2 separate regions of the Homo sapiens genome follow, and region 2 is linked to region 1. The links come from fine-mapping of genetic effects on gene expression. A gene starts in region 1. The other region holds a variant in brackets. All regions are shown on one strand. Distances are from middle to middle.

Evidence for each region. PIP is the estimated chance that this variant, and not a neighbour inherited with it, causes the effect.
Region 2: its variant is the best candidate, but not a certain one, in a credible set for the expression of SLC38A10 in whole blood (TOPMed, PIP 0.70).

What each region holds. Positions count from the first base shown.
Region 1 is chr17:81,293,867-81,296,763 of GRCh38, reverse strand. SLC38A10 (solute carrier family 38 member 10) reads left to right here and starts at 1,457. Exons shown (of 16, transcript NM_001037984.3): 1 at 1,457-1,941. The coding sequence starts at 1,843. RefSeq lists an enhancer at 792-881 and silencers at 1,542-1,811, 1,912-1,981.
Region 2 is chr17:81,246,914-81,249,810 of GRCh38, reverse strand. It overlaps SLC38A10 (solute carrier family 38 member 10), which reads left to right. Exons shown (of 16, transcript NM_001037984.3): 15 at 2,750-2,897. Among named protein-coding and RNA genes, the nearest start is that of NDUFAF8, 9.0 kb to the right of the region's middle. The variant T/C (reference allele first, on the strand shown) is at 1,280.

The DNA.
Region 1 (2,897 bases):
TCCATGGTATTTGCTATTTGTGAAAACATACATGTAAATTGCCCAGCCTACCTCGCATGCATAACATTTGATGAAAATTACATAATAAAAAGGAGGTTATGGAATGTGTATGCCATTTCATTTATATAAAAGTAAATGGGCTGGGTGCGGTGGCTCATGCCTGTAATACCAGCACTTTGGGAGGCCGAGGTGGGCGGATCACCTGAGGTCGGGAGTTTGAGGCAAGCCTGGCCACCATGGTGAAACCTGGTCTCTACTAAAAATACAAAAATTAGCCGGGTGTGGTGGCGGGAGCCTGTAATTCCAGCTACTTGGGAGGCTGAGGCATGAGAATAGCTTGAACCTGGGAGGTGGAGGTTGCAGTGAGCCAAGATCACACCACTGCATATACAGCCTGGGCGACAGAGCAAGACTCTGACTGAAGAAAAAAAAAAAAAAGAACGCAGGCATTTGTTATTTTGCCTGCGTATTTAATTAGTCTTTACCCAGGCATTTCCTCCTGTTCTCCTGAAGGTGGGGCACAGCCTTACTTGGTGGCTGCACTGCCAGTGCCTGAGGAACGGGCCTCTGTTCTAAGACACCTGGTCCTGCAGGTGCTGCAGACACGGCCTCCTTTCCTCCGCCGTCCTCCCCCAGCAGCCTGGAATCACTTGCTGCTTCCCAGCCATTCGGTCTACGCGCTCATTCATTAGACTCAGAGTGAGCAGCTAGGTGCCAGGAATCCACAGATCTATCGGGACCCTTCTCTGTTCTCTCCTCTCCCCGGTCTCCATTTCTACCCGAGGAATTCTCATTTGTCCTTCAAGCTCCAGCCTAGAAGCCACCTCCTTCTGGAAGCCCTCCCGGGTTTCCCTGTTCATGTAAGCCTCCACCTCTCCTGTCCCCTCCAGGAATGTCCCTTGCTCTTTTCGTGTGAAAAGGTGAAGTTCAACATTGCCACTGATCTGGGCGCAGTTCGGCAGGGCACCGCCTCCCCTTGGAGCTGTGTGGCCTTAGCGGAGTGGCCGAGCCTCTCTGTGCCCAGCGTTTCATTCCTACCTCCTAGGTGCTAATTCCTCACAACAGACTATTTTTCGGCTGAGGCAGTCAGGGCCCCCGCCCCCGTGCCCTGGCGCCAAGCACTCGCCCCAGAATCGGTCCTGGGAATAAAGGTCAAAAAGGAACCCTTAAACCCGCTCCTCCCCGGAAGGCACAGCGCCTCCCCTTCTCTCCAGCCCGCGACTGCCCATCCAAACCGAGGCCTCGCGGGGCGAGTCCCTTGTCCTCCAGCTCGTTGAACTGGGGCCCCGGGCACAGGTCGGCTGGACCAGCTTGGCGAACCGGACAGCTGCGAGACCCTCAGGTGCCCACCGGCCCAGTTTCCGCCCGCCCCTCCGGGCCCGCCTCTCATTGGCTCGCGTCCCACCAAACCCTACCCCCTGGCCGTCACTTCCGGGCAACGGAGCCCGTGGAAGGCGGAAGTGTGAGCGCCGCGGCGGCAGCTGAGTTGGGCTGAGGTGTCCCTAGCTGGCTCTGCGGCTCTTCCGGGTCTGGGCTCGGAGATTCACAGGCGGCCCGCGAGGCCGAGCGAGGGACGCATGGCCCTGAGGCGGCCGCAGGGCTTGGCGGGGTCCGGAGGTTGACCTCGCCCCCGCAGCCGGCCTTCGAGGCTGCCTCCTCCAGGCAGCCTCTGGGGCCCGCGCCCGCGCCTGCTCAGGCTCCCGTGTTCAGGCTGCCCATCCCCTCCCCACCGGCGTCCCGGACGTTGGGACCTGTGACCGTGGCCTCGGGCTGGGCTTCCAAAGCCGGCCGCAGCCCGGCGACCCCCGAGGCCTCTCGCCCCGGGCCCCTAGACCTCTCACTATGACCGCGGCCGCCGCCTCCAACTGGGGGCTGATCACGAACATCGTGAACAGCATCGTAGGGGTCAGTGTCCTCACCATGCCCTTCTGCTTCAAACAGGTGAGTCCGGTGGGCCCGGAGATCACCGCCCTCGCCTCCCCCGCAGAGGGGGCGTCTGGCTGGGTCGTCCTGGTTAAAGTTCCCGCCGGGGCAGGGCTTCGCTGGGCGGGTGCAGGCGGCCGCGGGCGGGGCGACCCTCTGGGTCCCGGCGCAGTTCCCGTAGAGAATCCGTGGATGAGAAGCGCACGGCGTTGGCCCTGGCAGCCCTTGTCAGCCCGGGCCGGAAAGTTCCCCACACTCAAAAACTCGATACCGAAGCAAAGTGTAACAAAGCAAAATGATCCTCCAGAATCGGAAGGGAACGGTGGGACTCCGTATTTTTACATTTTATCGTGTTTTTAAAAACTCTGACCCAACTGCACCTGTCTTCAGAAGCACACAACTCACCACTCCCAGGCTTCGACACTAGATAGGGACCTTGGTTGCAAGGTGATTAAAAACATCCACCAGGTTATACACCTAAGATCTGCGTTTCACAAAAACCGCACATTTGGCAGGGGGTGGTGGCTCACACCTGTAATCCCAGCACTTTGGGAGGCCGAGGCGAGTGGATCACCTGAGGTCAGGAGTTCGAGAACTGCCTGACCAACATGCTGAAACCCCATCTCTACTGAAAATACAAAAATTAGCCGGGGGTGGTGGCACATGCCTGTAATCCCAGATACTTGGGAGGCTGAGACAGGAGAATAGCTTGAACCTGGGAGGCGAAGGTTTCAATGAGCCGAAGGTTGCAGTGAGCCGAGATCACGCCATTGCACTCCAGCCTGGGCGACAGAGGGAGACTCCGTCTCAAAAACAAAAACAAAAAACTGCACATTTGATCTAATGTGTGCAGACGTTACCACAGTTGGAAAAAATCTCAAATACAAAAAGTTTAGCGTCATTCCAGCATTGAATAACACATGAAAGAAAATGGCCATTTCTAAGTGTCATCTGTTTAATCTACAATAAACAAG
Region 2 (2,897 bases), 47 kb after region 1:
GTCTCTGCAAGCGTCTGAGTGCAGGCTGCTTAGGGCACCAGCCAAGGGGGGACGCTGCCTGCACTGCTGCCTCATGGGCCACCTTGACAGATCTGCATGGGTCTCAACAGGTGGGTGGCTTCGTGCCTTCTGCAGCCCAGTCCCCGTGGTCTTGGTGGGCTCTGGCTGTAGGAACAGCCTGTCTCCTCCACGGTGCTTCACATGTGTCCCACGTGGCTTCTGGCTGGACGTGGCATGGCTCCTTCCCCCCTCCCCCTCTTTTTTCCTCCTCTTCCTCTTCCTTCCTCCCTCCTCTTCCCTCCTCCCTCCTTCTCCCTCCTCTTCTCTCCTCCCTCCTCTTCCCTCCTCCCTCCTCTTCCCTCCCTCCTTCTCCCTCCCTCCTTCTCCCTCCTCTTCCCTCCCTCCTTCATCCTCCTCTTCCCTCCCTCCTGCTCCTCTTCCCTCCCTCCTCCTCCTCTTCCCTCCTTCCTCCTCTTCCCTCCTTCCTCCTCTTCCCTCCTTCCTCCTCTTCCCTCCTTCCTCCTCTTCCCTCCTTCCTCCTCCTCCCTCCTCCTCTTCCCCCACCTTCCTTCTCCCTCCTCCTCTTTCTCCCTCCCTCCTCCCCCTCCCCCTCCTCCCTTCTGTCTCCTCTTTCCTCCTCTTCCCAGCACCAGGCCCAGGGCTAGTCCTTTGAGGAGCAAGTGAGGCCATGGTGCCTGCTCTTTCGGAACCCTGCCCTGGAGTATGGGGAGGTGTCACCAGCACATGGGATCTCGTCCTTGTACCATTGACATTCCGTGGTTGAGCCCCGCAGCACCCAGGGCGAGCACGTGGCCCACGGCCGAGGTGGCTGGTCTGCCACCTGCACTTCCTCCTGTGAAAGGAGGTGTGCGGGAGACCTGCTCTGCCCGTCATGGCCTTTCCCTGCAGGCAGGCGTCTGGCCCGGGGTGCTAGCAGGGAGCAGGGGCTGCTGCTTGAGGGCCGGCCCCATGGCCCTGATCTCCTTGGAGCCAGCCCTGTCCCCCACATCCAGGGGTCTGGGCGAGGCCCAGGGCTGCGTTCCTGGGAGAATGCTGACCCTGCACTTCTCTGGCTGGTCATGGTGTCACCACTGGGGAGGCTGGGCCGGCACGTCAGTCTATGCCTGGCATGCAGGGCCGTCCCTGAGATATTTGCTCTCACCACTCACAAAACATCCTTCTCGCTCCTGGATTGAACTTTTATGCCTCACAGCCCTAACCCATCATTTTTCAAAGCTTCCTATAATAATTTGAAAACATCTTGTAAAAATGACATAAG[T/C]CACAGCCGCTTGCGGCAAATAACTGGCCAGTGTTGAAGCGAGTCAGACCGGGTGCTCCTGCACCAAGTGTGTGCCAGCCGTAACCCGGGCAGGCCTGTCCTCTGGCCCTTGCTGCAGGCACCAGCTCTTAACACGGGGTGCACTGGGGCTCCCCATCACGCAGGACCTGCCCAGAATTTCCACAGTGGATGGTGTTCAGGAGCGGTGGTTAGGATGGCTGGCGGGGGCCTCACTGACGCTCCAGCTCCCATGCTCCCCTTAGAAGACAGCTTTTGGCCGGGTGCGGTGGCTCATGCCTGTAATCCCAGCACTTTGCGAGGCTGAGGTGTGCGAATCACGAGGTCAGGAGATCAAGACCATCCTGGCTAACACGGTGAAACCCCATCTCTACTAAAAATACAAAACATTAGCCGGGCGCGGTGGCGGGCGTCTGTAGTCCCAGCTACTCGGGAGGCTGAGGCAGAAGAATGGCGTGAACCCGGGAGGCGGAGCTTGCAGTGAGCTGAGATCGCGCCACTGCACTCCAGCCTGGGTGACAGAGTGAGACTCCCGTCTCAAAAAAAAAAAAAAAAAAAAAAAAGACAGCTTTTGTTTGTTTTTAAAATTCTCATCTCGGAGGAAACTTTCTAGAAGTACCAATATTCTTTTCAAAACATAGCTTACAGTTTTTCTTTTCTTTTTTTCTTTTTTGAGACAGGGTCTTGCTCTGTTGCCCAGGCTGGAGTGCAGTGGTGTGATCACGGCTCACTGCAGCCTCGACCTCCTGGGCTCAAATGATCCTCTGGCCTCTGCCCCCCGAGTAGCTGGGAGTACAGACGCCTCTCACCATACCCTGATCATTTTTATTTTTTTGTTTTTTTTGTTTTTGTGGAGATGGGGGTCTTGCTATGTTTCCCAGGCTGGTCTCTAACTCCTGGGCTCAAGCGATCTGCCTGCCTCCGCCTCCCAAATTGCTGGGATTACAGGCGTGAGCCGCCGTGCCCAGGCTTATTTTCTTACGTGCTTGTCCTAGAACAACTGAATGTGTAAAGTGGAAAAAACAAAAACAAAACCCCACCCAGCCCAGATAACCATCTCTGACATTCTGGCACATTCCTTTTGACTGTTGCTCTGGACACTCACTTCCATGGGCAACGAGCAGGCTTGCTGGGGTCCTGCCGGGTGCGCCTGGGGCACAGCCAGTGGGAGAACTGATGCGGCACAGTGGCTGGCTGTGCGGGAGAGGCCATCCCGGGTGGGCTTCCAGGGGCAGTCAGGGCGCAGCCTCTCCCGGGCCCTCAGGCCTGCGTGCATCACTGAGCTGTCCGGGCTTCACGGTCACAGTCATGATGGGTGTCACCAGTGGCCAGTGTTCGGGCACACTCCCTGCAGGTGACCTGTGCGTTGCCTTGCTGTGGGCCGCGCCGTCCCTGGCCCAGCACGGTGCATGAGCAGCCCGGGCACTCTGACTGTGTGCTTTCCAAACCCAGAAGCTGGCAGGGCGGAGATGCTGGACCACGCCGTCCTGCTTCAGGTGATCAAAGAACAGCAGGTGCAGCAAAAGCGCTTGCTGGACCAGCAGGAGAAGCTGCTGGCGGTGATCGAGGAGCAGCACAAGGAGATCCACCAGCAGAGGCA